4 linked regions of the Homo sapiens genome follow. The protein of the gene in region 2 interacts with the protein of the main gene of each other region in a pairwise test. Each region holds a gene or a part of one and is shown on either strand. Other genes may lie near its edges. The genes, in order: SMAP1, PRR20E, ZNF385C and TBX3.

Region 1 (7,658 bases), on a different chromosome or scaffold from region 2:
TAAGTGTCTCTTGAAAAGCAAAAGTTTTTAATTTTAATGAAGTTCATTTTCTCAATTTTAACTTTATGGAATATAATTTTGTGTCCTATCCAAGAATCCTCTGCTTAATTCAAGGTCCCAGAGATTTTCCCCCATGTTTTCTTCTAGCAGTTTTATAGTTTTAGCTCTTAAATTTAGTTTTATGATCCATCTCAAATTAGTTTTTGTGAATGGTCTGAGGTAAGGTTCAAGGTATTATACATTCTGTTGTTGTTGTTGTTGTTGTTGTTGTTGTTGTTGAAAAGACTATCCTTTCTCTCCATTGAGTTACCTTGGCACTTCTGTTAAAAACTGACCATAATATGTGAGTCTATTTCTGGACTACGTATTATGTTCCACAGATAACTATAGCTTTTTAATAACTGTTAAAGGCAGGTTGTGTAAGACCTCAAACATTCTTTTTGTTTTTCAATGTTTTGATTTTGGAAGGTCCCTTGCATTTCATTAAAAATTTTAGAATCAGCTTGTCAGTTGCAACAAAAAAAGCCTTCTGGGATTCTGACTGGAATAATGTTGAATTTAGAGACTAATTTGGAGAGAACTGACATCTTAAAAATATTGAGTCTTCTAATCCATGAGCATGATATCTCTGATACCTCTCTCCACTTCTTTAGGTACAGTATTCATTAATTTCTCTCAGCTATCTTCTGTAGTTTTTGGTATACAGGTCTTGCACGTATTTTGTTAAATTTATCCCACAGTTTTCATATTGTTATGCTATTATAAATCATAATTTTTATTTCAACTTCCAATTATTTGTTGCTAGTATATAGAGTTACTTTTTCTATAGTCACTTTATTTCTGTAAACTTAATAAACTCAATTATTCATTCTAATAGCTTTTCTATAAATTTCTTGGGATTTCCTACATAAATGATCCCATTGCAAAGAGATTGTTAAATGACTCTTGCATGCATGTATTTTTAAATAGGTCCTGTGAGAAAGGCTAATTTAAGTAGTACTTCATCATCCCATACCATCTTAAATACACCCAACTCTGTACCACTTATAAAAATCTAGATTCTGGCCAGGCGCGGTGGCTCAAGCCTGTAATCCCAGCACTTTGGGAGGCCAAGGCAGGCGAATCACTCGAGGTCAGGGGTTTGAGACCAGCCTGGCCAACATAGCAAAACTCCGTCTCTACCAAAAATACAAAAATTAGGCGGGTGTGGTGGCACACACCTGTAAGCTACTCCAGAGGCTGAGACAGGAGAATCGCTTGAACCGGGGAGGCAGAGGATGCAGTGAGCCGAGATCATGCCAATGCACTCCAGCTTGGGCGACAGAGTAAGACTCCATCTCAAAAAAACAAAAAAAAAAAAACAAAAAATCTAGATTCCATATATAATTTTTATCACAAATCCACTTTGTTAGGCAGAATAATGGCCCCCAAAGAAGTCCTGTTCTATCCTTGGAATCTCTGTGAATAACTTAAGGACACTGAGATGGCAGTATTGTCCTGTATTACCCAGATAAAGCCAAAAGGTCATAAACATGCCAGAGAAGATGTAATGATGGAAGTGGAGGGCAAGGAGGAGCAGAATCAAGGATGACACACTGCTAGTTTCAAAGATGGAGGAAGGAGCCATGAGCCAAGGAATGCAGGTGGCCTCTCCAAGCTGGAAAAGAAAACAGATTCTCCCCTAGAACCTCCAAAAGGAATGCAAGCCTGCTAACACCTTGCCTTTAGCTCAATAAGACTCTTTTTGGACTCTGACCTGCAAACCTGCTAAAATGATAAATTGGTATTGTTTTAAGCCATTCAGTTTGTAGGATTTTTTAATAGCAGCAACAGGAAATTAATATACTGGTGATGATCATTTCACTTAAACATTCTTCTGTTAATTTTTTTGTCACTGTGCACCATCATCACCCTACACCAAAAGCAACTTCCAAGAGTAGAAATGCATGAACTAAATAACGCCCTAGGCTAAACATAATTTTTATGAATTTTTCCTATAATGGAAGATAAAGCTATCCCAAATATTATTTCCCACAGAATTCCCCTTATTTTCTTAAGTTTAGGCTTGAGCTCATCACTGCTCAATGAAAGGCACGCTTTATAAAAGATCAATAAGAGACATCTGAAGGTCTACCATCAATCACTTGGATCTCTAGTCAAATGGAGACCAAAAATTGCTGGGGTATAGGGGCCACAGAGAATGGAAGATTATTAGAATTACTTTTAATTCTCTTTCCTTCGGACCCTCAAGGTCCTCACATTTATCACTCAAAATATATGTAAACATCAAATTAGCATGTTTCCAAGAGCACTTTATCTAAGCTCTGTTTTAAGTGAAATAATTTTAAAAATCACTTCTATATGATACTGTAACTAAATGCCACTCCAAGTTAAACACAGTTCTACCTAACATCTGAGTAACTAAATGCCACTCCAAGTTAAACACAGTTCTACCTAACATCTGAGGTAGAAATACTGACATTAATAGTAAGAAAGCATTACAGTGAAACAATTTTAAACAAAAGGACTCCTCAACCTGTGGGGAAGAGTTGTATGAGTTGTGTGATATAGCTTGGGATAATTAAAGATAATACTAGGTAAATTTGCTCAGCAAGACCTAAATCATCAGTGAAAAGCTTTAAATAAAAACTATAAAAGTTTGATGACAATCCATATCTCAATAGGACTCAAAAAATAAACTCTCAATAATATAATTTTTTAATAATAATAGTAAACACTGACATAGAAGTCACAAGGTATGCGGCGAAACCCCGTCTCTACTAAAAATACAAAAAATTAGCTGGGCGCGGTGGCGGGCGCCTGTAGTACCAGCTCCTCGGGAGGCTGAGGCAGAAGAATGGCATCAACCCGGCAGGCAGAGTTTGCAATGAGCCGAGATCGAGCCACTGGCACTCCACCTCAAAAAAAAAAAAAAAAAAAAAAAAAAAAGAAGTGACAAGGTATGGGATTCAAGAAAGAACACAGACCATACAAGGTTGAAATAAATCTTTGCAATAAGGATTAAAGAGAACAAGGACAACTGGTCACTAAGCAAGTCAGAGGCAAAGCTTGGACTGAATCCTAGCTTTGCTCAACCAAGCTAGTGTTCTTTCAATTCTATCATGCTGTTTCTATGGTTTAAAAAGCCCAGGTAGATGACCAGTATCTGACCTAAGGATATAGCAAAAAAAAAAAAAAAAATTATATATATATATGAAGACAAAACAAAAAACAAAGAAAAACACTAAAGCACTTATCTGTGGACTCAGTAAGTTTCTAAAATAAAGTTTACGCAAGGTGAGGTGGCTCACACCTCTAATCCTAGCACTTCAGGAGGCCTAGGCAAGAGGATTGCTTGAGGCCATGAGTTTGAAAGCCCAAACAACATAGCAAGGCCCCTCCCCACCACACCCAACAAAAAAATTTTTTTTAAATTAGCCATACATGGTGACAAGCCTGTAGTCCCAGCTACTTGGGAGGCTGTGGCAGGTGGATCACTTGAGCCCAGAAGTTAGAGGCCGCAATGGGCTATGATCACGCCACTGCACCCCAGCCTGGGCAACAGCATGAGACCCTGTCTCTATAACAAGGAAAAAATAAATAAATAAAATAAACTTTAGTGATGAGACAAAAATTCCAATTTGTTTAAACTGGTATTTTGAAGTTATGGTGGTTCTGCTATTAAATGCAAGGAGGGAAACTAAAATGAAGATATTGTCCACATTTGAACACATTTGGCAATAATCTGAGAAAAACCTTAAGTTAGCCGAAGGTGACAGTCTTCCCAACAACAATCTCTTACATCACAAATTTCTACAACAAAAACAGGTGTTTTATCTATCATACCATCAAACATAGTTAACAGCACAGACTATATCTCCCGGGCTCAAATCCTGACTCTACAGTTCAGATTCCCACCCCTATCTCATCTCAATAAAATCACAATTTCCCCAGGTTATAAAAGCCTCTAATGTTCATCCTTGCTCCTCCAGACTGTACCCTTATTAGCAGGCTAGGTTATAGAGCCAGCACAGATATACTGAGGCTCCAACATGTCCTGTATAATATACTGGAAGAAAATATATATTACCAATTATGCTTTGAGTTCCCCAAGACCACCCTCATGTTCAGTAATTTGCTAAGAAGATTCAAAAGATTCAATATACAGTTGTACTCATCGTTATGATTTATTATAGCAAAAAGATACTAAGCACAATCAGCAAAGGAGAAAGGCACAAAAAGTCCAGGGGAAATTAGGAGCAAGCGTCCGGGTGCTCCCTTCCAGTTGAGTTGCAATGAACACACTTAATTCTCCCAGCAGTGAGCTGTGACCACACATGTAAAATGATGCCAACCAGGGATGCTCATCAGAGACTCAGTGCCAAAGGTTATTAGGGAGACTGGTCATGTAGGTAACCCTGGCTGGCACATATGCCAATTCCAGAATCCCAGAAGAAAAGCAGATATTCAACATAAACCATATTTATTATACAAACAACTTAGGCACAATGACAGACTCATCACTTAGGGTGGTGGGACCATCCCCAAGATTCCCCTCAGATGTCAGCCAACCACCGCAAGGCCTGCTTTGTTAACTCTTTTCTCCACACCAATGACTAACAGATCCTTTTGAGCATGAACCTTATCTACCTATCCCCTGCTAATCCCCAGGTCCTAAGAAAGTGCCAGTCACTCCCCTCCAAGTTGTTTTTTTCTTTTTTTTTTTTTTTTGAGATGGAGTCTCGCTCTGTTGCCCAGGCTATAGTGCAATGGCACGATCTTGGCTCACTGTAAGCTCCGCATTCCGGTTTCAAGTGATTCTCCTGTCTCAGCCTCCCCAGTAGCTGGGATTACAGGAGTGCACCACCACACCCAACTAATTTTTGTATTTTTAATAGAGATGGGGTTTCACTATGTTGGGCAGGCTGGTCTCAAACGCCTGACCTCAGGTGATCCACCCACCTCGGCCTCCCAACATGCTGGGATTACAGGTGTACACCACTGCTCCAGGCCTCCTAAAATTTTTTTAATGAAAAAATTTCTGGCTCCACTACTTTAAGTTCTGTGTACCTGGGTAATAATATTACCTACCTCAAAGGTTGTTTTGAAGATTATATGAGTTAGTATATGTAAAGTGTGAAGTACATCATCTCTGGTAAAAAAAAAAAAAAAAAAAAAAAAAACACTATATAATTTGTGAGTATATATGTAATGTTATTATTTGCTTTTTTTTTTTTTTTAACATTCTCCAGGTCACAATGGAGCTACCCTATCTCTAAACTTCTAATGAATCTACCAATGTAAACATAGATTAGAAGTTAACTGGTAATTGTTTCATGTCTACTGAGATCTCTAACTAGCTTGTAGACAACTATATCCAAAACTTTTTGTTTTTGTTTTTTTGAGATGGAGTCCCACTCTGTCGCCCAGGCTGGATGGAGTGCAGTGGCGCCATCTCGGCTCACTGCAACCTCCGCCTCCAGGGTTCAAGCAATTCTCCTGCCTCAGTCTCCCGAGTAGCTGGGACTACAGGCATGTGCCACTGCACCTGGCTAATTTTAGTATTTTTAGTGGAGACAGGGTTTTGCCATGTTGGCCAGGGGTGGCCTCAAACTCCTGGCCTCAGATGATCCACCTGCCTCAGCCTCCCAAAGTGCTGAAATTACAGGCATGAACCACTGCACCCGGCATCCAAAACTTTTTTAACACACACAGTAGTATCTAACGTAGTACTTAATCTTTTTAGTGCCCAGAAAATATTGATTTATCAACAAAATTAAATGTCTGTTAAATCAACTCTTTACAGTGGTAAGAATGTAAGGCGGTCAACTCTTCTGATAATAACTACAAAATGGCCTCCAAGTTTCTTTGATCTTCTTTCATTGAGAAAATTGAGAAACTGAACTAAAATGGCTTAATTCTAATCCGTGAAAAGACGATTAGTAGAAGCGTTTGAAATAAGCAAAAGGGGCTGGGTGTGGTGGCTCACACCTGTAATCACAGCACTTTGGGAGACTGAGGGAGGCAGATCACTCGAACCCAGGAGTTCAAGACTAGCCTGGGCAACATGACGAAACGTGGTCTCTACAAAAAATACAAAAATTAGGTAGGCATGGTCGCACACATCTGTAGCCCCAGCTACTTGAGAGGCTGAGGTGGGAGGATTGCTTGAACCAAGGAGGGAGAGGTTGCAGAGAGCCTACATCGCACTCCAGCCCAGCGACAGAGTGAGACCCTGTACCAAAAAGAAAAAAAAAGAAAAAAAAAATGCCAAAGCACTTTTTTGAGTTTATAAAGTATATCGTTTTAAACATTCTACTTTGCCTTAAAGAGAGCATGGATTCAAGTCTGTTATAGGTTAATAAAGGTGGAGAAAGATATATATATATATCTTGTACAGCAACAATTTAGGAGATGTAAGCCTCCTTAATTAATGAAGTCAAGTACTGAAAGTTTTATCTTAAACAAACAAACAAACAAACAAAAAAGACAAAGAAGAACTGTGAAGAACAAAAGGAGGGGAGACAACATGCAGCCCAAGTTTTAAACTGATGAGTCAGAGACCAATGATTTCCATCTCAGCTCTGATACCAGGGCTCTGCCCAATCAGGAAAAACCTCGAGATCAGCAGAATTACAAGAACAACAGACCCATCAGACTGAAGTTTCACATTTTGAGGAAACTTTTAGATTGGCAAATTTCTTTAGGTGAATTATAATCAGACTTTCACTTATATAAATTTGTCCTATAAGCATCAACATCATAATAAACACCAGTTCCCCAAGGTGAACTTTACTTTTTAGTAAATATTACTACACTTTAAAAGTAACAACTCTAAAATATCAAAGACTTAATGAAAAACATGAACTCTTGGATTGGCTCTTGCAATCAAATGGGCTCTACACGTTTCTACTTTTTGAAAAAGTTAGAAAGCTAAAAGACTCCCTTGAAGGCAAGGTATTGGACATAATTAGGATCTGCCAATTATCTGCACATGGAAAGCACAAGTGGGACAGAGGCCACATTCCTACAGAAAGGGCAACTAACAAAAAACGTCTACAGACACTAAGTGGTTGCAGCTCCATAGGCCTTATGCCCCCATCAGCATACCAGTCTCCTGGGTGAGAAGCAGTTATGACAGTGGGGCAGCGGTAGCAGTGGTGGTATGTGTGGCCTTGAAAGCAGTTCAGCAGTGGCTCCCTGACTTTCCCTCCTCCAGCCCTTCCAATGACTTGGTAAGTACCTGATTCCTGAAAATAGCTACAGTGGATCTCTTTCCTGCTCTATACCCTGACTTATATATTGACATTGTGTGAATTTAGGTCCTCTTGCCCTCTTCTTGGACCACTGTTCAACATCTCCTAACTCAGGATTTGCCTGCAATCCTCACTATCCCAGTTCTTCCTCTGACCTGAGACTACCAAAACTGATCATGCTTAAAGAAAGCTTATCTAGTAAGGGCCGTATGGAAACTTCTTCTGTTCTTTCATACTGGTACATGTGTGTGTGCAGCTGTGTCCTTTAATTCCTTCTCTATCTGATGAAATCCCACTCCACCTTCAGAACCTAGCTCAAATGAAGACTCCTTCTGTGACTGGTCCCAACAGGGTCACTCCACATGCCACTCCCTTTCACAGGTGCACTCCCTTTCACACACC
Region 2 (8,363 bases):
AAGAAAAGGGAAGTTTTGCTTTATCTCCTTGCAGGGGAATAGCTACCTAAGTTCTGTGGAGTTCTCCTGTGTGGAGGATTTTCCCATTCTCCCCCACATGTTTGTTTATTTAATCACTTATTTATATCCGTATGGACTTATGGACACCTATTGTATGCTTTGGTTTACACTCCAGTACTTCGGGGGATGAATTATTTAATAATTGAACTAATTATTTTGTCAAATATTTTACTTAACTATTTAATTATTAATTATTTAGCTAATTACTTTGTTACTCAACGTTTCCAGCTTTGGCCACCGGGAGCTCCTTTAGTTGGCTTCCGTGTCCCTTTGTCAACCTCCCATCGCTGTGGCTTTTGGCTTTGTTTGGTTTTGGGCGGCTCCTTTCTCCCTGGCACCACAGGATGCTCCATGCTTATTTGCATATTCTCATCCTTATTGGGATTTCGTGTGCTCACTGACCGAACCCATAGATTCTTCTGTGAAGTTTCTCTTCAAAACTTTTATCTTTCTTATTGGGATAACTTCTCTCTCTCTTTTTTCCATTTTGAGACAAAGTTTTGCTCTTGTCACCCAGGCTGGAGTGCAATAGCATGATCTCGGATCACTGCAATGGCGCAGTCTGGGCTCACTGCAACCTCCGCCTCCTGGGCTCAAAGGATTCTCCCGCCTCAGCCTCCCGAGCAGCTGGGACTACAGTGGCCCACCACCATGCCTGGCTAATTTTCCTATTTTTATTAGGGCGAGACATGAGAATCGCTTCAGTCCCGGGAATGGAGTTCTCAGTGAGCCGAAGCCACCGCGCTCCAGCCTGGGTGAAAGAGTGAGAGTCTGTTTCAAAATAAATAAATAAATAAATGAACGAATAAATAAACCAGGAGGAATTACCAAGGGCTCTTGGTGCCTGCCTGCAGTCTGAGCTACTTGGCAACCTGATGTTGGAGGATCACCCGAGCTGAGGAGGCGCAGGCTGCGCTGAGCTGTGATTGCACCACTGCACTCCAGCCTGGATGACGGAATGAGACCCTGTCTTACTCCACGTACCAATGTTTAGTGAAGCATTCTGGTGGTAGAAATATCCTGGAAGTAGCGTATCAGCAGACCACCACCTGCATAATGTAAAAGCTGTGCATCTTTCCAGACAGATATACAGCAAGAAGATAGTGGCACATGTGCGTAGGATGACTGCAAGGGGGCTTTCTGGCTTATGGATGACAGACCCCAATGGCAAGCCAAGAAGCAGCTCCCACTGCACAGTGCTCATTGTGCTCCATGCCATGCTTCAATACGAAGTCGCCTGTTCCTAGTTTGGAGACGCACGGACTCCACAGAGGCTCTGGTCCTGACCACACCTGTGTTGCCTGCCTGGACCTTATAGTCACTTCAGCAGGACCCCTGGCGCATGGCACGCCAGGTGTTTGTAAAAGCGAGCCACAAACGATGCTCTCAATGTACACGTTTGTTGGTGTAGACTTGTGTGACTATGGGGAAAGATGCGATATGAATGGAGAACAGAGACTGGAGCCATTTTTCTACCTTCCTTTCTGCTTTTAGTAAACACATTTTGTATTTGCGATTTGTGAAAGTTTAGTGAAAGAACTGTTCTATAAAATAAGTCTGAAGAGAAAGGTTTATTTAGAAGGATTGAGTACACAAGAGAAAAATCTTTGATGTAAAAAGTTATCTGTATTTTATTTGGACGTTTACAAAGGAGTGAAAACCAGCCAACAACAGCCTACCTAATAAAATACAAAATACAAAAGTTCATAATACAACATTTATCAAACTCTGAAAAGATGGGAACTAACTCAACTTAAACATCTAAGAGACACCTACAGCCAACATCTTGGTTAATGGTGAAACATTCAAAATATTCCCATTAAAGCCAGGAGGAAGCCAAGGACACTGCCGTCAAATTACTGATTCCTGGTTTAGCGGTTCCAGTGAGTCATGCACTCTCCTTGCTTCCGTTAACCGCCCCCCCCCCCACCCCAACACCTTTTGTCTGATTCGTCACATGTCCTTTGATCCCCTTTTTCCTCAATCTGTTTGAAATTTTACCTTCTATTCCAATTCATTTAGTGGTTCCCAAAGGGTACCCACGTTGAGACTTAAAAATGTGTCAGTCTAGATTTTTATTGCTCTTATATTCAGCCAGTCTATCGTCTCCAGGCACTAGAGAAGCACTTTAGTAACTTCTAGCTCCTTCTGAGTTTTCGCATGTCCCACATGTCTATATGAGTGTCTTCTGGAATTTTAATTCTAGGTCATCAATCCTTTTTCCAGAATCGTACTTCTCTGGACTTAAGAATACAGTTTCCTAATTTCCATGCTTAGTGATCCTTGTTGCATCCCACTTCTTCCAGGTTGTCTGGGTTGGCTTCTTCTTGGCTGAAAAACGTGACGTGTACTTTCACTGTACATGACAGTTCCATTCCAATCGCCTTGTACAGAAAGGGTGTTTGGCAGCTTGCATGTTGTAAGTTGCGTACTCCAAGTTCAGGGGAAGCTCAGGCTTCAGGTCCAGTCGGGGGAGGAGTGGAGCAGAAGTGGGGCTGGGGGGAACGTCCAGGTGGAAGGAAGGGAGGCTGGGAACAACGTGGGTGGCAGATAGTGGTCAATACGCAATGTCGGTGAGGAACACTGGGACCCCTTGCACGTAGGTGCCCTGGGGGGTTTGAATGACTTGTAAAACCGCTGAGTCACCCAGAGCCCTAAACCCGATGCAGGGATAGAGGGTCAAGACGGGTTGCCAGTCAACAGCCTGAGGCCCAGGAGCAGCGGGCGGCTCCTGAAACCCCAGCTCAGGTTGCGCCACGTCGGGGCCAGGGCCTTCCTGCACAGTTCCAGGCGGAGGACCTGTTTCAGAAAGGGAGAAGGCTGCGGTCTCCGTGATTTCCGGTTCCCCCTGGTGGCCTGGCTCTCCATGGTGGTCCAGTTGGATGTGCACGTCCGGTGCCATCAAGCCTTCTGCCCCCTGTCTCTGGCCAGCGTCCCCGCGGGGCCCAGCCCTTCTGCCACGGCCTCGCCCTGGCCGCCGGCTTCCTCCCCGGCGCCGGCCTCTCTCTGCAGGAGGGGGTGACTCTGGGCGAGCTGGGGGCTGCCGTCTGAAGGGTTTCACGTAAGCGATGGGTTTTGCGGGTTGGGCTGGCTGTGCGGGCCCATCTGCTTCCACGGAGCCTTCAGGGTCCGCAACACAGCAGCCTGGCTCTGGAGGAGGCCCACCTGAGGCTAAAAGAGAAGCGGAGCGTGAGCAGAGAGAGACAGAAGGAACTTCACCCGTCAAGCAGTTATAGGATACTTTTACAAATAAATACTCAGAGAAAAGAGGGATTTCTGAAGTTAAAATTGTGAGAGAAGAAACAAAACTCTCCACGGAAGTTGGAGAAAGAAGTTGAGAAGGTCTCCCACAGAACAAAGCAAAAACCTAAAATGATGGAAAGAAGGATGAAATATAAGAGAATTAGAGGTATGCTGTGGCTGAGACATTTCACCAGAAAATTTCAGAGTGCTGAGGAAAAAGAGAAGATTCTAACAGATTCTAGAGAGCGGGAGACAGAGAAAGGAAAAGTCACATGGAAAGGGCTAGGATTCCACATGTCTCAAAAGTCAGACATCTCAAAAGCAGCAGTTCAGTCTAGAACATAACAGAAAATGTCTTCGAAATTTCAAGGGAAATGAATTTCCCACCTAAAATTTCCTGTCCAACCGAAGTTTCGCTGAAGAATCTGGGAGGGGAGAATGAAGATGTTTCAGACAAGCAAGATGTTAAAGAATTTCCTTTCAGTGGATGCTTTATTGTTATGCATCTGTCAAACTAGACAAGATTAAAAGATTTAGGACACTCAGCGTATGAAGGGAAAAGTTTTGGAGAACAACGTGGCAACAGCCGGAAAATTCCAACTCCTCCGGGAAAGAACAAGGTGGAAGTACCGGTTTATCATAGATCAAGACGTAGCGTGAGGACTCGCTCTGCTACGGAGAAACAGTAATACAAAACTAAACAGAAGGAAACAGCGACAACAACAGCAAATCTCAGATTTGGGAAATGGGATTACGGTTCGGAAGAGGGAAAGGAATTTCCCAGATGATGTGGAACCCGGGAGCTGACTTCCAACAAGCAGCCCAGGTTGAGGCAGGCTAGGAGAAGGTGAAACAGAGAATGCTTGATTGAGTTTGAGTGTCAACCATTGGGGAAGAATTGGGGAACAGACGAAATTAAAAAGAGAGGAGTGGCAGGCGTTTGATGTACCTTGATTAGGGGCCATGGAGCGAAGTCGCTTCGAAGGCCTTGGTTCCTCCATGAGCAATCGGCGGGAGGGGCTGGGGAGAAAAACAAGAGAGCAAGAACGGATTTAGGAAGACAGAGGTGACAAGGCAGGGGGATGGCCGTGGCCTTTCTAGGGGAATGAGGATTCTGTCCCCAACTGCACCCACCCGAGATCCGTCCACGCCTCCGGGACCCCCAGACACACACCTGATCTTCCCACAGCTGGCTCCGGAGATCTGAAAATTAGGAGACTCTTCGACGAAGAGAGGCCCGAGGAGTCGGAGGTGTCCACAGGTTCACCGCTGTAGCTCTGAGGTAGTCCACCCGCAGCCAGGGAGTCTGGAGGGAGCACGCAGCAGGTTCTGGCTCCGAGCCCAGCAGAAAGCCGACTGCTGGAGGCCGAGCGCCGTCCCTCTTATATGGCAGCAAGGCAGTCGCGTAAGGGACAGGCGTCGTCAGAGGGGGGCCGGCTGGGGCGGGCCTGGCTGGGCTTGCGAGGCGCATTGGGCCAGTCCCCTGCCAGTCAAATGGGGGCCCTTCTGAGATGCCGCCATTTCTAGACGTCCGTGGTTGATTGATTAATCTAATCATCGAGGAAAAAAAATTGCATAATGACCTCTGAGTGTCAGCACAATGAGGTGTGGTGCCCTGAAAGCGGCTGACAGGAAGATGCGATTAGCTTAGATCTGAGCATGGTCAAGGAAAGCATCCAAAGCGGGGATATCTGGGCTGAAATCTGGAACATAACGTTTGAAATTAGTCATCCTGAACCGGGTTGGGAGAGGCAGGGAGGGAGGAAGGGGAGTGAAGAGAGTGTGCTGAGGCCCGGACTGGAAGGGAGCCCGGCACATTCTGGGAATGGACGGGAGGCCAAGTCCAGGCCCGGAGGTGGTGCGAGGTGGAGGCAGGGTCCGCGCAGGAGCTGGTCTTGTTCCAAGGCAGCGGAAAACCGTGGAACGGTGTCCGGCAGCGGGTTAACATTTCAGAAACGACCAGCCTGGCTGTGAAGGAGCGCCAACCCAGGGTCCGCAGAATAAGTCAGGAGAGGCAAGAAGGCTATTGCAGCCCTCGGGGTTGGGCGCAGGGTGCTGTTAGACTGAGACTCAGGGAGGTAGAGGAGGAGAAAGTTCCCTGGTGGGAGAGAAATTTCCAAGAGAAAGCGAGACCCAGTGTGGACAGCCCTTGAGGAAGAGACTGCGGCCTTGGTAGCCCGCCGGTTCATTCAGGCAGAGGTGGACCGAGAACCTGCTCTGAACGGGAAGTTGCGGAGCTTGGCTTGCGCACATCTGGTTGAAGGGGCTTTTGAACTGCCAAGTGAGGATGTCAAGTGGCCTTTTGTAAAAAGAGTCGAGCTCAGCGCGATGGCGACGGGGCTGGAGATGCGTGTGAGACCCACACCGCTGGCTTTTATTGCTGTGGGTGCACTCACGGGTGGAGGAAGACAGCGGGAAACACAGCAGGACGCTGGAGGGGATCCCACAGTGGGTTATTTGGTTGGTTTGCATCCTTGTGTCTTTTACAGAGACGGGTTCTCGCTCTGTAGCCCAGGCTGGAGTGCAGCGGTGCCATCTCGGCTCGCTGCGGCTACTTGGGGGGGGGGGGGGGGGGGGGCTGAGATAGGAGAATCAGTTCAAGTGATTCTCCTGTCTCGGCCTCCGGAGTAGCTGGACTACAGGTGAGCGCCACCACATCGGGATAATTTTCGGATTTTTTTGGAGAGACGAGGTTTCGCTATGTGCCCAGGCTTGTTTGGAAGGCCTGAGCTCAAGCCGTCCGTCCCGCTCAACCTCCCGAGTCGCTGGGACCCCAGGCGCAAGCCACCATGCCGGGCCAATTATTTTTTTGGGTTGTATTTCCTGTTGAAGTGAGGTTTTGCTATGCTTTCACCTCACATACCTTTTCTGTCCCAAGACCCCATCCAGGGTACCACCTTACAACTCGTCACGGTTCCCCTTGGCTGCGACGGTTTCTCACACTTGCCTTGTTTTTGATGACCCTGACACTTTGAATACTGATCAGATATATTGTGGGATGTCCTCTCCTGAAGTTCGTGTGATGTATTCCTTGTGATCTGACTGGAATTATATGTTTTTGTCAGGAAGATTGCAGCGGGAAAGCGCCATTCCCATCCCATCCTGTCTAGAGTACACACCATCAAGCCGGCTTATCACTGCTGCTATTAGTCCTGGTCACCGGGCTGGGGCAGTGTTGATTAGGTTTCTCCACCATAAAGTGATTTTCCCACCTCTTTCTCTACTGTGCTTTCTGGAAGTCGCTACCTGTAGCCTATACGTAAAGAAAAGGGAAGTTTTGCTTTATCTCCTTGCAGGGGAATAGCTACCTAAGTTCTGTGGAGTTCTCCTGTGTGGAGGATTTTCCCATTCTCCCCCACATGTTTGTTTATTTAATCACTTATTTATATCCGTATGGACTTATGGACACCTATTGTATGCTTTGGTTTACACTCCAGTACTTCGGGGGATGAATTATTTAATAATTGAACTAATTATTTTGTCAAATATTTTACTTAACTATTTAATTATTAATTATTTAGCTAATTACTTTGTTACTCAACGTTTCCAGCTTTGGCCACCGGGAGCTCCTTTAGTTGGCTTCCGTGTCCCTTTGTCAACCTCCCATCGCTGTGGCTTTTGGCTTTGTTTGGTTTTGGGCGGCTCCTTTCTCCCTGGCACCACAGGATGCTCCATGCTTATTTGCATATTCTCATCCTTATTGGGATTTCGTGTGCTCACTGACCGAACCCATAGATTCTTCTGTGAAGTTTCTCTTCAAAACTTTTATCTTTCTTATTGGGATAACTTCTCTCTCTCTTTTTTCCATTTTGAGACAAAGTTTTGCTCTTGTCACCCAGGCTGGAGTGCAATAGCATGATCTCGGATCACTGCAATGGCGCAGTCTGGGCTCACTGCAACCTCCGCCTCCTGGGCTCAAAGGATTCTCCCGCCTCAGCCTCCCGAGCAGCTGGGACTACAGTGGCCCACCACCATGCCTGGCTAATTTTCCTATTTTTATTAGGGCGAGACATGAGAATCGCTTCAGTCCCGGGAATGGAGTTCTCAGTGAGCCGAAGCCACCGCGCTCCAGCCTGGGTGAAAGAGTGAGAGTCTGTTTCAAAATAAATAAATAAATAAATGAACGAATAAATAAACCAGGAGGAATTACCAAGGGCTCTTGGTGCCTGCCTGCAGTCTGAGCTACTTGGCAACCTGATGTTGGAGGATCACCCGAGCTGAGGAGGCGCAGGCTGCGCTGAGCTGTGATTGCACCACTGCACTCCAGCCTGGATGACGGAATGAGACCCTGTCTTACTCCACGTACCAATGTTTAGTGAAGCATTCTGGTGGTAGAAATATCCTGGAAGTAGCGTATCAGCAGACCACCACCTGCATAATGTAAAAGCTGTGCATCTTTCCAGACAGATATACAGCAAGAAGATAGTGGCACATGTGCGTAGGATGACTGCAAGGGGGCTTTCTGGCTTATGGATGACAGACCCCAATGGCAAGCCAAGAAGCAGCTCCCACTGCACAGTGCTCATTGTGCTCCATGCCATGCTTCAATACGAAGTCGCCTGTTCCTAGTTTGGAGACGCACGGACTCCACAGAGGCTCTGGTCCTGACCACACCTGTGTTGCCTGCCTGGACCTTATAGTCACTTCAGCAGGACCCCTGGCGCATGGCACGCCAGGTGTTTGTAAAAGCGAGCCACAAACGATGCTCTCAATGTACACGTTTGTTGGTGTAGACTTGTGTGACTATGGGGAAAGATGCGATATGAATGGAGAACAGAGACTGGAGCCATTTTTCTACCTTCCTTTCTGCTTTTAGTAAACACATTTTGTATTTGCGATTTGTGAAAGTTTAGTGAAAGAACTGTTCTATAAAATAAGTCTGAAGAGAAAGGTTTATTTAGAAGGATTGAGTACACAAGAGAAAAATCTTTGATGTAAAAAGTTATCTGTATTTTATTTGGACGTTTACAAAGGAGTGAAAACCAGCCAACAACAGCCTACCTAATAAAATACAAAATACAAAAGTTCATAATACAACATTTATCAAACTCTGAAAAGAT
Region 3 (7,658 bases), on a different chromosome or scaffold from region 2:
TCAAAGTCCAGTTGCTCTCCAAGTTCCTACCCCTCCCCTGCCCTTGCCTCAGACCTTTAAGACCAAAGACTGCAAAACCACAGTGCTGTACCTGCCACCTCCAAGGACTGGCGTCGAGGCCCAACCCAGGAATGTTGGCTTATTTACCTCCTGGGGGAAGCAGTTTAGGCCTCATCAGAGCTGGGGAGCACATCCCTTCAGAGCCCATGGGTTTCCCATTCCCTCCTGTCAGCCCTGGCCATGAAATCCTGGGGATCTGGAGGGAGGGAGGATAGTTAGAGAGTGAGAGGGGCGAGGGCTAGCCTTTTCCTAATACCCCTGGGTTTGAGTTTAATTTGCAATAAAATGGAATCCCAGCACATCATGCAGTCTCCATGGTGGTGTGTGTGTCAGGGCCTGCCCAGACCCCTCTGTCCCTCTCTTGGCTGGGCTGCCCTGGGGTTCAGTATGCTGCCTCAGTAGGGGCAGGAGGGTCATCCCTCTGGGCTGGGAGCCTCAACTGTGGACTCCCTGCCTCTGCTTCCCCAGCTGTGGGGAGGAAGGGCACAGAGAAGGGGGCTATAATCACTATGGGTCTGGCTGGTGCCACTCTGTGAAGAGAGACACAGGTTTCTGCCCAGCTCCACACCCAAGAAGCCCACCCGCCTCTTGTTCTGGCCACGGGGGTAGGACAGAGCCCATTTCAGACCCTGCCCTTCTTCCTCCTGCAGCAGGCCCGGCCTCCGGCGCCCCCAGCCCCCTGCTGGCCTCCCTGCCCCTGCCCACCCGGCCTCTGCAGCCCCCGCTGGACTTCAAGCACTTGCTCGCCTTCCACTTCAATGGCGCTGCCCCGCTCAGTCTCTTCCCCAACTTCAGCACGGTATGGGCTGGGCTGGCGGGTGGGGGCATGCACACAAGCTTGTGGGTGGGCACAGAAGGTGGGTTCAGAGGGTCCAGCTCTCAGCAGCTGGGTCTAACCAGGAGCTTTTTCTCCAACATCCCCCAGAGGGGATAGGTGCTCCCCAAATAGGGACCCCTATTTGGGATCCTAAGAGAGGGACCCGCTCTCTCTTAGGCTGGGGAACAAGATGGTGTCAGCCCTTTCCCCACCCCCACCATCATAGCTGCTGGGCCTGCAAGGGCCTGTAGTCTGTGCATTCCACTTAAGCTTCTGTGTAGGCGCTCCTGTGGATGACGTGTGTGTGTGTGTGTGTGTGTGTGTGTGTGTGTGTGTGTGTAACCTGTGCCTTTTTGTTGTAGTTTCTATAGGTTTTGTATGTTATATGTGGATGTGAGTTTGTGTGTTGGTGTCCAACGTGTGTTTGTAAACAACTCTTTGTGCATGGGTAATTTTATGTAATTAAGGTATGTGCCTGCACAATCTGAGGGTTTATTGTGTCCTTGTGTCTTTTGTGTGTTTGGCGTGTATCTGCCCTCTGAGCATGCGTGTTTTTGTGTGGCTTGGGTGATTGTGAGTTTACCTGTGGTCATGTGCCCTTTGTGTGCATGAGTGTGAATTGTTCTGCTTGTCTGAGCATTTGTAACTGCCTGAAGCTTCTGTGCTGTGTGTGTGTCCTAGTCTGTACATTTCCTTGTACACGTGTGCATAACAAGTATATGAATTTTAATTCACTATATGAGGGATCAGCAACCATCTCTGTTTTTTTAAATTTTGAAAACTCAAGTGAAATCATGGGTGTGGCATGCCCCATCCTGAGCAGATGGTGGCAAACTCCACCTCAGTCACACTTAGGAATCCCTTCCCTCCCACCCTCCAGAGTTAGACAGAGGTCCTAAGGAGTCTGAGGCATTTGGGGGGTGGTCCTCTGGTCTTGAGTCCTTGCTGTCGCTTGCTGACAGGCTCACTGTTGAATGGCATGGTTCCAATTGCAGGGGGCCCCTGCAGGCCATTCTCCTCTGAGGTCCTGTCCCCTGAGCCCCTTGCTGGCCCTGGGTGCTGTGAAAATTTGAACCACTTTCTGTTCTCAGGGAAGTTTCTGCACCCATGTTCTTCTCTCTAAGCTCTGTTTTCTTTTCTTGGGAAGGTTTGGAAAGTTCCTTTTTTATTTTATTTTATTTTTATATAAGCAGAGATGAGGTCTCACTATATTACCCAGGCTGGTCTCAAACTCTGGAGCTCAAGGGATCCTCCCACCTCGGCCTCCCAAAGTGCTGGGATTACAGGTGTGAGCCACCACGCCCAGCCTGGAAAGTTCTTGACAAGTTCAGACAGCTGCATTTGGCCCAACTTCCTGAGAAAAGGGAACATAAAGCCTTAATTCTATAGAAGAAAAAAATGATTTAAAATAAGGAAAAGAAGCTAGGTGCAGTGGCTCATGCCTGTCATCCCAGCACTTTGGGAGGCTGAGGTGGGCTGATCATCTGAGGTCAGGAGTTTGAGACTAGCCTGGCCAACAGAGATGGTGAAACCCCATCTCTACTAAAAATACAAAAATTAGCCGAGCATGGTAGTGGGCACCTGTAGTCCCAGCTACTTGGGAGGCTGAGGCAGGAGAATCGCTTGAGCCCAGGAAGCGGAGGTTGCAAGATTTTGGCTCCGCCATTGCACTCCAGCCTGGGCGACAAGAGGGAGACTCCATCTCAAAAAAATAATAAGGAAAAGAAAAAAAATCCAAATTAATATTCCAAAGAAACGATCCTACTCCTTGGGGAACCTTAGGCCTCCACTTGCTGCTCCCTGCCCCCTACTGGCCCCCCACCTCCCCTGGCTGTGGCTCTCACTCTCTCAAGAGAGGTCGTCATGGCTGGGCACGGTGGCTCACACCTGTAATTCCAGCACATTGGGAGGCCAAGGCAGGCGGATCATTTTGAGGGCAGGAGTTCGAGACCAGCCTGGCCAACATGGTGAAACCCTGTCTCTACTAAAAATAACAAAAATTAGCCAGACGTAGTGGTGGGCGCCTGTAATCCCAGCTACTCGGGAGGCTGAGGCAGCAGAATCACTTGAACCTGAGAGGTGGAAGTTGCAGTGAGCTGAGATCATGCCACTGCACTCCAGCCTGGGCGACAGAGCAGTATTCCATCTTATAAAAAAAAAAAAAAAAAAAAAAAAAGGTCGTCAGCAGCCTCAGGCCCTGTGACAGTGATAGAGCTGATGAGATAGGACTTATCTTCCCCCAGCCCACAGGTCCCTGCATGAAGCCTGGGTGATGGGAGAGGAAATTCCAACAGACGAGTTCTTTGTCTCTTCCCTGCCTCTCCTTGTTTCCAACTCTCTGTCCCAATAGTTGTAATTATTGCAAAGGAGAAAAACAAAAAACAAAAATAATGACCTAAGGGGCACCAAGAGATGCCAAGGTGATCACCAGGACATGGTTCTATGTCCCAGAAACATGCAGGGCACTCTGGCCATTCCCCTGCTTCCAAGCAGAAGCCTAGGCTGACAAATAAAGACAGCCGGGAGAGGCTGTGTATTTTTCTTTTCTTTTCTTTTCCTTTCTTTTCTTTTCTCTTCTCTTTTTTTTTTTTTTTTTTTTTGAGACAGAGTCTCACTCTGTTGCCCAGGCTGGAGTGCAGTGGCGCAATCTCAGCTCACTGCAACCTCTGCCTCTGAGGTTCAAGCCTCCTGCCTCAGCCTCCTGAGTAGCTGAGACTACAGGCACGTGCCACCACACCTGGCTAATTTTTGTATTTTTAGTAGAGAAGGAGTTTCTCTTGGCCAGGCTGGTCTTGAACTCCTGACCTCAGGTGATTCACCCATCTTGGCCTCCCAAAGTGATGGGATTACAGGCGTGAGCCACTGCACCCAGGCAGCTGTTTCTTCTTCTTTCTTTCCTTTTCTTTTTCTTTTTCTTTTCTTTTTTTTTTTTTTGAGACGAAGTTTCGCTCTTGTTGCCCAGGCTGGAGTGTAATGGCCTGCTCTCGGTTCACCGCAACCTCCATCTCCCTGGTTCAAGCAATTCTCCTGCCTCAGCCTCCCGAGTAGCTGAGATTACAGGCATGCGCCATCACACCTGGCTAATTTTGTATTTTTTTTTTAGTAGAGATGGGGTTTCTCCATGTTGGTCAGGCTGGTCTTGAACTCCCAACCTGAGGTGATCTGCCTGCCTCGGCCTCCCAAAGTGCTGGGATTACAGGTGTGAGCCACCGCGCCTGGCCCAGCTGTTTCTCTTTCCAACATCCACAGGATGGAAAAGTTCTTCCTAGAAGCTGACCAAGGCCCTCTTCAGTCATCTTTAGTTTTGGGCATTTTGTGCTGCCCCCGACCCCTGCTTCCCAAGCCAACCCCAGAGTTATTATGCCCTCCCACTCCCTTCACAGATGGACCCGGTCCAGAAAGCTGTCATCAGCCACACGTTTGGTGTCCCCTCCCCTCTGAAGAAGAAGCTGTTCATTTCCTGTAACATCTGTCACCTGAGGTTCAACTCAGCGGTGAGACAAAGTAGTGAAAGCAGGTCTGGGGAGGGGGCTGGGCAGGGAGAGGGCTGGAGGCTGGGCTTTCAGAGTCCTTCTGGGAGGAATATCAGTGGCAAAGGGGCTGTGGTCGGTATTTTCCACCCTGGCTGCAGAAGAGGCACTCTTGGTCCTTTAACCATCGCATCCTCTCCTCTCTCTAGATTCTTCTGCCCCTTCCCCTTCTGCCCAGCTGTAGCCCAGTGGGATTCCATTTCCTTCCCCCCAGGCCTCTCTCCTGTGTTCTGGATCCTTCTGCAAGAGAGAAGACTGCCCTTCCTCCACTCCAGGTCCCAGTGGCCCATCTCATCAGCTCCTGGTCTGGAGCTGAGCTCTTAAGGCACCTGAGAGTTTACAGAATGTGATCATGCCCATCCCCTTAAATAATAGTTTTCATGATACATCTGTGAGACGGGTGGAGGCGGGATTTTTTTGTTTTGTTTTGTTTTTTTAGACAAGGTCTCACTCTGTCACCCAGGCGGGAGTGCAGTGGCGCAATCTTGGCTCACTGCAGCCTCCACCTCCAGGGTTCAAGTGATTCTTGTGCCTCAGCTTCCCTAGTAGCTGGGATTACAGGCATGTGCTACCACGCCTGGCTAATTTTTTTATATTTTTGGCAGATACAGGGTTTCACCATGTTGCCCAAGCTGGTCTCGAACTCCTGGGCTCAAGTGATCCACCCACCTCAACCTCCCAACATGCTGGGATTACAGGTGTGAGCCACCGCGCCTGGCCTAGAGGCGCTATTATAATCCCCGATTTTCAGATGAGGAAAGTGAGCCTTAGAGAGGTTAAGTGACTTGCCTAAGACCACACAGCTGGTAAGTAGCAAAGCTGGGATATGAATCCAGGCCTGGCTGACCCCAAGGTCTATGACTTTCTACTACAGCCTACCCCTTTCTACTACATCTTACCACTAGGTAGAGGAGGAACCTCATTCTGGCCTCCCAGGGAAGGTCTACCTCCTGTTAGGCAATCTGGGGTTTCGGTTGGATGCCAGCAGAACTGCTGTGGTATAGCATCCAGGGAGGGGCCATGGGGGCCTGTCTTTCCCATGTTTCAAGGAGGTGGGCCGGGGAGCAGCAAGTGAGGACCCTTGGAGGGAGGACACTGACAGACCAGATTTGAGGATTCCCTTCAGGCCTTCTGGTTCCATGAGTCCTGCAAGAGATGGAGGAGAGGCTGGGCGTGGTGGCTCATGCCTGTAATCCCAGCACTTTGGGAGGCCAAGGTGGGTGGATCACTTGAGGTCAGGAGTTAGAGACCAGCCTGGCCAACATGGTGAAACCCCATCTCTACTAAAATACAGAAGAAAAAAAAAAAAGCAGCCAGTTGTGGTGACAGGTGCCTGTAATCCCAGCTACTCGGGAGGCTGAGGCAGGAGAATCGCTTGAACCCAGGAGGCAGAGGTTACAGTGAGCCTAGATTGCTCCCGTTGCACTCCAGCCTGGGTGACAAAGCGAGATTCCGTCTCAAAAAAAAAAAAAGATGGAGGAGAGAATTCGTTCTGAGGGAGGAACCATTCTTCTTCCTGCCGGACCCCGGGCACAGTGCCTGGCAAATAGCAAATGCTCAGTAATGACTTGTTGAACAAATGAACAAAGGGATGAATGTTCTGGGGTACATACACCCCAAAGTGTGGGGATTGCTCTGCTTTCTCCATTTGTGCATTGATACACTTGATAACTAACATTCATTGAGCACCTACTCTATGTACTCGGCCCTTGTAATTCATGTTCCCATGTAATTCTGACAACCCCATGAGGTCAGTATTATCATCACAGGGTTTATGGGTGAGGAGACTCAGGCTCAGAGAGATGTTACTTGCCTAAAGATGTAGTTAGTGGCCAGGCGTGGTGGCTCACGCCTGTAATCCCAGCACTTTGGGAGGCTGAGGCGGGTGGATCACGAGGCAGGAGATCGAGACCATCCTGGCTAATATGGTGAAACCCCGTCTCTACTAAAAATACAAAAAATTAGCCGGGTGTGGTGGCGGGCGCCTGTAGTCCCAGCTACCCCGGAGGCTGAGGCAGAAGAATCGCTTGAACCCGGGAGGCGGAGGTTGCAGTGAGCTGAGATGGCGCCACTGCACTCCAGCCTGGGCGACAGAGCGAGACTCCATCTCAAAAAACAAAAAACAAAAACAACAACAACAACAACAAAAAGATGTGGTTAGTAAGTGGCTGGGTCAGATCTGAAGCCAGAGGCAGCCTGCCTTGGAGTTCATGTGCGAGAACACATTCTGCAAACCTCAGAGCCACATGTGCTATGGTGATGATGATGACAAGGACAAGGACTTGCCCTTTGTGTGACCTGAGCCCTGCCTCCCTTTGACCTGTCCCCCTGCTGGGCTCCAGTTCACAGATGGGGCATGTGGACTCAGCCAGTGAATGGTGACCTCTTGCCCTCCCCTCCCCAGAACCAGGCCGAGGCACATTATAAAGGCCACAAACACGCCAGAAAACTCAAGGCTGTCGAGGCTGCCAAGAGCAAGCAGAGGCCACACACCCAGGCCCAGGATGGGGCTGTAGTGTCCCCAATCCCAACGCTGGCCAGTGGAGCCCCTGGAGAGCCACAGAGTAAAGGTCAGTCCTGAGCTCTTCTCTTTCCCACGTCTCCACTCCAAATCTGGTTTCCGACAAGGGGTTGAGAGATTTCTGCTTATTCTTTTTGCTTGTGTTGGAGTATTCCATACAGACAGGCAAAGGCACACAAGTGTACCACGCCATGAATTTTCCTAAGCTGAACACACCCAGATCAGGAAACACGTTACCAGCACCTCAGAAGCTTGTCTTGCACCTCCTCCTGGTCATTACCTTGAAGTATTCATTTCCAAGGGCTGCCTTCACAAATGACTTCATTTGTGAAGTTAGGAATGGTGGCTCACATGTTGTGATGGTTAACACTTTGGGAGGCTGAGGCGGGAGGATTGCTTTAAGCCTGGAGTTTGAGACCAGTCTGGGAAACATGGTGTGACCCTGTCTCTACAAAAAATTTATTTGCCAGGCATGATGATGCACACCTGTAGTCCCAGCTACTCAGGAGGCTGAAGCAGGAGGATCTGCTTAAGCCCAGGAGGTCGAGGCTGCAGTGAGCTATGGGTGACAGAGCAAAACCTTGTCTCTAACCTCCCCTGCCCACCCCCACCCCCAAAAAAAGAGACTACAACCTGGGTGACTGAAAACAACAAAAATTTATTTTCACACAGCTCTGGAGGCCAGAAGTCTGAAATCAAGGCGTTGACAGCATTGGTTCCTTCTTGGGGG
Region 4 (7,658 bases), on a different chromosome or scaffold from region 2:
TAAAAAACAGGTTTCTTCCCGTTGAGAGTGTGTGTGTGTGTGTGTGTGTGTGTGTGTGTGTGTGTGTGTCTTTCCAAATAAATACTGCTTGCTCTTTAAACACAGGTAACTGAGGGGGGATTTGAGCCATCTTGTCCACTCCTCACCCACCTCCCCCAGCTCTACCCCCACCGCAGATCCCCAGTGCTCCACCTCCTCTCCCAGGTCAATTGTTGCTTTATAGCTGGATGTTTTCTAGGCCACCTTCTCGGTTCCAGGTGGCAGAGTCCCTTGCTTCCCCCCCACCCAGTCCAACACATTGTAACCTAGAGTTCAAAGACAGTGAAAAGTCAGCAGTTGGAGCCTCTGTTGGTTGGAGAGAATGGGAGGAGAAAGAAACAGAGACAGAGAGAAAAGAGAGAAGCGCTTCAAGCAAGTTTTCAAAGCTGCTTGCCAAGAGGTAGTATGCAAACAGACACCCACCTCCCCTCCCCACCAGCCAAATAAGGATCTGGGAGAAAGGCCTCTGTGCTCTCCTTCTACTGCCTTAGCGGGGAAGGGGAGACACACCTGATAGCCCTTTTTGAACTCTGGCTTCTGTTTAAGGATGTTTAGAAGGCTTCTAGCTTTTAAAGGGCAAGTGCCCTGGTTGGTGCCCCATCCCCCTTCAACTCTTCCAGGCCACGAGGGACTGGAGTCCAGTGATCACAAAGGTGACATGGTTTACCTTTGAGGTTCGATGTCCCTACAGTGGAGGCGGCTGGAGAAGAAGCCTGGGCGAAGCAGTTGAAAGCTGCTTGTTCACTGGAGGACTCATCAGAGGTCCCATTCTCCTTTTTGTGTCTTTCATCAAACACCCTCATGGACTGCAGGGTGAGCTGTTTTCTGTGGCAGAAGCCCACACCCAGGTTACAGAATGTAACATACATTTCCCCTCTTTGTTTCCCTTACCCTTTCCAAAGCGGCACACACATACCTCACACCCTGCCTGCTGCCCAGGGACAACGCTAATTCACTGAAATCTGCTTGCCCCAGGGCAGCCACATAGACCCAAGCTTTGTCCTTGACCCTCTAACTGGGCTGAAGAGTGTGGCAGAGGGTTAGGGAGAAAGGAAGGAGGCTTCAGTTGCATTTATTCAAGATGGGGTTTCATTAGGAAAAGGCATTTGCTTGGGCTGTGAAATTTTATTTAAAAGCAGGAGAAGAGGCTGGATCTAGTCAGAGACAGCTGGACTGCCAGCCTTATATAGGGAGAACCGGGTGTCCAATCCTGCAAACACAACGCTGTCTGTCCCCAGCATACCCAAATTTTGGATGGTGGCTAAGATTGGGAGGAAGTGGTTATTTCATGCTGCACTTTACTGTAATCGTTTTACTAACAAATTAATTGGAATAAAAATATATTTAGCTGTTAGCAATTATTTTTTAATGCCCGCCCCAAGGGGATAGGTTAAAAATTTGGGGGTGATTTTCTGGATTTTAGAAATTCTTTGAAAGGGGGTGGGGGAGGGGAGACCCTCTTTCATATACTCTCCAGCTGTCTACGTAATGCAAAATGATACATGTCCCCACGAAGGAGGGAGAGAGCCATACATCTTTCCGAAGTCCCCAGCTCTGTCTGATGGTATTTGGAAGACAGGATTGCAAAAATTCCCAAGTATTTTCTCAATGGCATGGTTCTTTCTGGGACCTGCCTAGGATGAACTTAAATTAATTAGGAATTAATAGGCATCCCTGTATAATCTATTATCCCTGATGCTTCTCTTCCAGAGATAAGTATGGTGTAGCCTAGTTAATTTCCTTAAAGGTAAGGAGGTAGGAAAAGTACTTGTCCTGGGTATACTGATAGCGGCAAGCATGTAGCAGTGGGGAAAGTGAATGATTTCCACCCGCTCTTAGGATAAGTGCCTGCATCTCACTTCTAACACTTCAGAGTTGGATCCTAAAAAAAGGGATTTTTCTAAACTATCTAATAAATAATTGTTTCAACTCACCTTTTTTCTCTTCGGCCATTTCCAGTGTCCCGGAAACCTTTTGCAAAAGGGTTGTTGTCTATTTTTAACTGGGTTATCTATTGGAAGAGACACAAGCAAGACAGAGACATTGTTCTCATTTTCTAGAATGTTTTGAGGGTGTTTTTCCCAACTCAACAAGTCTAGAGATGTGACTGCCAACAGAAGTCATATAGATATGCCAGGGAAAGGAGATAATAAGGAAACTGTGGCAGGGCTTGTATCTCCTATATGAGGCCAAACCAGGGATTTGGGGATGAAATTATTCAAAGAAATTCTTTTCTTTGGGCAGCCAACAGTTTGGGTTTAGACATGGAAGTGTTGTCAAAGTCATCAAGAGGGAAAACCTGTAGATCTTAAAATTATGCTTTCATTTTGATTTTTATACAGTGCAATTAATCATAAATTATAGCATACTCCCTTCACACACACACACACACACACACACACACACACACACTCCTTTTCCATGAATCCAATAAATGATTTATGGGGTTTCACTACCCTTGTGCGGGAGTGAGTGCGGGAGTGAGTTTAATTTTTTTTTTCTTTGCCTGGGGGGTGGTTTGAGGAAATTACAATATTGACAGTTACAGTACTGAATGACCACTGGAAACATCTGTTTTCATTTATATGCTCTGCCATGGCCATTAGGTGGAGAAGGCCCATGGCCTTTTTGTCTGATCAAAAATGCTACATTTTATTATTACATTAACAACTTCATTTCACAGGATTCTGGGTCTAGAGGGCACATGCATTTTGCACTTTGAGAAAAATGCTATAGTGTGTAATCTTTCAAATCCCTTCCCCTTGGTGGGAAGAAGAAGTTATATACACAGAGTTACTCAGAGGTGGAAAGGGGGACCCTTGGTTGGATTCATGTTCTTGGAATAAATTGCTCTATTGAAGACTTCAGGTTTCACAGGGAGAGAAGATCATGTTTTGGTATTCACACTAAAGAAATTTAGCTGGAACATCCCCATCATGAAGTCCACAGAGGACCCAAGGACAGTGACAATGACAGTGAGTTCAAAATGAAGTGTGTTGTCAGGTAAAATGGACTCTCTTTGAAGTCCAGGATTGCAGAGCAGGGGTCTTCAGTCCCTCCTCCCACCCCATAACTGCTAACAGCCAATCTGGGAACTGGTGAATCAGCAGTAAGGGTCACTTTTTCTGTGCCCATGACCTTCAGGCCACCATAGCTCTAGATATCAGGTGCTTTCCCTTTTGGGGATCCTTCTAACCTCCAGATTCAGGCCTGGGGGAGGGGGGGAATTCAAATGAAGTGGTGACTTTGGCCACCCCAACTCAAAAGCCTCAGACAACTCGATTAATATGACCCTGTGATCAGGGTAGGTTTTTCCAACCACACGCATGCATGCACACACATGCACACACACACACACATCATAACACAGCAGCATAAAAGGTAATAAAAACCAGACCAGCTACTCAGGATTTCTGGCTAGGGGAGAAAAGCTGGTCTCTACTAGGATTCTCCTCCCAGGATCCCAAATGGCTTTTGCCTTAAATTTTTAGCTGGTTCCTTTTGAATGTGACTTCTTGATCCTTCTTCCCCAAGGGGAAGAAGATGAACCTTAAAACAGACAGGACAAAGCCCAAGAGGGGGGGAGGAGTGGGTGGCATCAATGACAGCAGTTCTAGGAGTTTCTCTGTGGCAAAATTAGTATGGCGTTTTTTTGCTCAGCATTGTTCCTACCTAGTCAAGGTGTTTTTCTGTCTCCTCGAGGTGTCATTGTCCTTTCCCCCCAAATGCTCCACAAATCACAAAAGACAACTCAAGACTCTCGTCTCCACTCTCTTGTAACTTTCTCATCCTGACTTAAAGCAGCTTTTAAGGGGAAGGCAAAATATCACCATTAAAAAGGAAAGCCCCTTGAGTTTACCTTATCATTCTGGTATGCAGTCACAGCGATGAATTCAGTTTCGGGGAACAAGTATGTCCGAAATGTACTATAAGGGAGTTTCAAGATGTCATTGGCTCTTACAATGTGGAACCGGGGCTGGTATTTGTGCATGGAGTTCAATATAGTCTGCAGGGGCAGGGAAGAGGAGACATACATAAAACAAGGATTTAGCAGAACAAACGGGATCTTAGGACCCCTGCCAGGCTGAAATCTTCCCCACCGCAGGGTACCACGCTTGTACCGAGCCCACCTCCTTGGAGTACCCCCTGGGTACGTTTCGCTCCACAGATGTTATCTTCTGGAGAATCCAAATTGCTCCTCAGTTGCCAAAGGGCCCCCCCCACCCTCACCATCTAAGGATCATTCATACCTTGAACCCTAGCCTACCTGAGTACCAAAACTATAATTCCCCTGCCACGTAGCGTGATCACTTGGGAAGGCCAAAGTCTTAAAAGATAGAGAAAAACATGCATTTTAATTTACAAAATGATTCAGTACTTTAAGCGCCCACTAATTGACGAGCCCAATCCACTTAAAGCCCTGAAAGGCTGAACTCTAGAGAGGAATATTTATGCCTTAATCAAATCAAGGGCTTCAAATGCAATTCCTGCCCGCTGAAGATATTTCCGCGCCATTCGCGTCTTCCTGGGCCTAATCTTTCTGCTTACTCCTTGCTTATCACGCTGTTTATTTTATTGAAATGTTGGGGAGGGGTAGGAAAAGGCGCAAAAGGTCCTTTGCCTGATATCTACAAGCAATGAAAGTTTTCTAAGTTTCTAAGCACTGTCACTGAATCCATATATACACTCCCAACACACAAACCATTTTTTTCTGAAGATCTAAGCCTCATTTAGGGTAAGCCGGACTCCCACCTAAGCCCAATTCTTTTTTTAGTAAAAGAACGAGTTTTTAAAAATGTATTCACACCATTTAACCAACAGAGTCAAGGCTCCGAAACGTAAACTCTCCTGAGAAAATAATATCACTGGTTTCAAAACAGAAGTATGATATTTTAAAACAAAACAAATCCTTTAGGAATACATAGCCTTGAAATTGATTTTAGCTCTTAAAAAATGGTTTTTAACTTCACTCTCAGGTCAGGAATCTACCAAAGAGCTGGAATTGCTATAGAACACAAGCCGGTAAGTTTTCTTGCCCCATTTCTTTTAGAACGCCAGGCCTTCCATTATTTGGAGAGAAACACCCCGAATCCTTTTTCCAGACGAGGACAAGTTTGCTATGCTTAGGGAGAAGCAAAGGAGAAGTCTGGGCTGAAACTCATGAAATGGGAAGCACTGCCTTTGACTGAGTGAAGGAGGAGAAAATTTTACTGAAGAGAGCAATGAAACTTACAAATCCATGTTTGTCTGAAATGTTGTTGGTGAGTTTCAGTTTGTGGAAAGTGACGACTTTGGACATCCACTGTTCCCCAGTAGCGGGGCTGTCCGGGTGAATGTACATCCTCTTTGGCATTTCGGGGTCGGCCTTACCAGCCACCATCCACCGAGAATTGTGAAATTTATAACGACAGTCATCAGCAGCTATAATGTCCATCAATAAAATGTATTTGGCTTTTTTATCCAGCCCAGAACATCTCACTTTAAATGGAGGAAACATTCGCCTATAAAACGAAAGAATAGAAAAGAAAAAGAAAGATAAACCACCCGTAATCTTGGGTTTGATTTCCTATGTATCACATAATATTGAAACCAAGTCTAAGACTTTATATTGTGACTGATAAGCTTACATGTTTCAGAGTGAGGCAACTGGTTGCAAAATCGTTTTCTTCCACAACTAACGTATTAAATATTCTCAGTTTCGCCATATTTAGACGTCCCAAGGTTCAAAACAAATGCATTGTGGCACTGCAATTCTCTACATTGTCTAACAATTTCTTCAATATTTTTTTTGTCCTTGCTTGACTTTACAGATTGCCCTCCTGAGAGCAAATTCTTGCCCATGTCTTTTTCTGTGGGTATCTAGATCTAAACAGGTTGGGGTAAGATTTTTGTAAAGCGCGGTCAGTTAAGACTAGAATTTTCCACCACCCATTGATGAGAAAATGTTAAACTTATCAAGGAAATGAACGTCAAGTTGCACCCCTCCCTGCTGCAGAATAGCAATCCCGCTGTGGGCGAAGTGAAACTGGACTTCAGTGAGTTCCCAGAACGAATTTTGCAGACTTCGGTGCACTCCTGGGCCTGATAACCGATCTGCCCGTGGAGCTGCTAACACATTCCCCCACTTCTTAGGCCAGTCCAAAACCGCAAGACTGTGCCACCACATTGCTGTTAATTTCACAGAAGGGTTGGCATTCTGTAGTCTTGACTTAAAAGGAAGCAAGGAAGCACTTTGCTGGAAAACTGACTAAATGTCTTGTGAGTTTGAGGAGGATTTTATGCCAAACTTTGGCCTCATTTAGCTTGGAAGGAGACAGAACGCTTAAGATATCATGAAGGGGATTTTATTTTTGTATCAACTTTATGCCTTTACAGGCTTCAATGCTATTACAAAAAAAAAATCAGTGATTTTAAATGACTATTACAGGATCTTCTCTTCCAGGCAGGTTTTGGTCAGGCAAGGACCTTTAAACATTATGTAAAATATGGTTGATAATATTCACACATTAAAAAAAAGGTGTGTGTCTCCTCACTGGCTCCTTAAGTCTGCAAACATAATCTTAAATTATGCAAAATTGCCTGCTGAACTCGCCCTTGGGTTACAGACACGTGAAGTAGTGTGGGCAAACAAACCAAAATGCCCTTCGATTTCTCTCTGACCAGGGCAGCAGCAGGCCCCTTTAGACCCAGAGGCTAGACTGGAGGGCAGAAAGGGCCGGGGAATGGTGTCAGGCCTCCCAATACCCACACAAAAGGAAAGGGCTTTAAGTTTTTCTCTCTGAGAACAAAATAAAACAGACAACACAACATCAACAAAGAAATAAGGATGTTCCAGGAGGGTTTGAAGAGTGAGTTTCTTGCAGTAGAGTGCCTTTTTTTTTTTTCTTTCCTGCTCCCTGCAGGGATGTCTGTGCTCCACTGAAAAATTCTGTCTGTTCGGGAGGGAACCCAGGATGCAGACCAAATGCAAGACCCATGCAGATGCCCAGGTAAGCTGAAATTTCCTGCCACCGGGGCAGGGCCTGGAAGTCTGTGCATACATTTCTAGGGGAACTAACTTTTCGTCCAAGCCGTAATAACCGACCAACCGACTGTTCTGGGAGCAGAGAAATAAAGGGAGGAAAAAACTCTCCAACAGCTTAGGGGAGGAGGCCCCCACTGCTTACCTTCCCGACTTGGTAATGACCATCTCGGTGCCCCGCTTGTGAAACTGATCCCAAAGTTCTTTAGCCTCCAGGTGCACCTTGGGGTCGTCCTCCACCTCTTCTTCGGGCTCCATGGTCTTCAAAGGCCTCAGATGCGCCTGGGGCCCCAGGGAGGAGAACGGGATGCCGGTCTCGGCCGCCCCCACCAATTGATCCATGATCGGCTTGGCCAGGGCGCCCGGCAGCGAGAGCGCCGCCGCGCCGTTGGGAGGCAGCGTCAGCGCGGGGAAGAACGGCGGCTGGTGACCCAGCACCGCGCTCATGGCGAAGTCCGGCGCCCGGTGAGGTAGGAACGGATGGTAGGCCATGCTTGTCCCAGGAATGACCGGATCTCTCATGGAGAGGCTCATCCACTCCAGGCGGGGCGCTGGGCTCCAGCCGGGGACAAGTCCGCAGCTGCTGTGTTTTGTTGTT

What was found.
Region 1: the proteins of PRR20E (region 2) and SMAP1 interact in a two-hybrid assay, tested with the Homo sapiens proteins (one large-scale study listed by BioGRID).
Region 3: the proteins of PRR20E (region 2) and ZNF385C interact in a two-hybrid assay, tested with the Homo sapiens proteins (one large-scale study listed by BioGRID).
Region 4: the proteins of PRR20E (region 2) and TBX3 interact in a two-hybrid assay, tested with the Homo sapiens proteins (one large-scale study listed by BioGRID).

Annotation. Positions count from the first base shown.
Region 1 is NC_000006.12:70,672,724-70,680,381, reverse strand, and holds part of SMAP1 (stromal membrane-associated protein 1), read right to left. Parts: intron 1-7,658. UniProt on the Homo sapiens protein: GTPase activating protein that acts on ARF6. Plays a role in clathrin-dependent endocytosis. May play a role in erythropoiesis.
Region 2 is NC_000013.11:57,163,525-57,171,887, reverse strand, and holds PRR20E (proline-rich protein 20E), read right to left. Parts: upstream 4,692-8,363; 5' UTR 4,478-4,691; intron 4,324-4,477; 5' UTR 4,305-4,323; coding exon 4,253-4,304; intron 3,232-4,252; coding exon 2,618-3,231; 3' UTR 1,670-2,617; downstream 1-1,669.
Region 3 is NC_000017.11:42,030,938-42,038,595, reverse strand, and holds part of ZNF385C (zinc finger protein 385C), read left to right. Parts: exon of another isoform or gene 1-364; intron 365-710; coding exon 711-859; intron 860-4,260; coding exon 4,261-4,371; intron 4,372-6,811; coding exon 6,812-6,977; intron 6,978-7,658.
Region 4 is NC_000012.12:114,675,607-114,683,264, forward strand, and holds part of TBX3 (T-box transcription factor TBX3), read right to left. Parts: 5' UTR 7,595-7,658; coding exon 7,206-7,594; intron 7,029-7,205; exon of another isoform or gene 6,686-7,028; intron 5,541-6,685; coding exon 5,273-5,540; intron 4,367-5,272; coding exon of another isoform or gene 4,307-4,366; intron 4,046-4,306; coding exon 3,899-4,045; intron 2,051-3,898; coding exon 1,974-2,050; intron 865-1,973; coding exon 707-864; intron 1-706.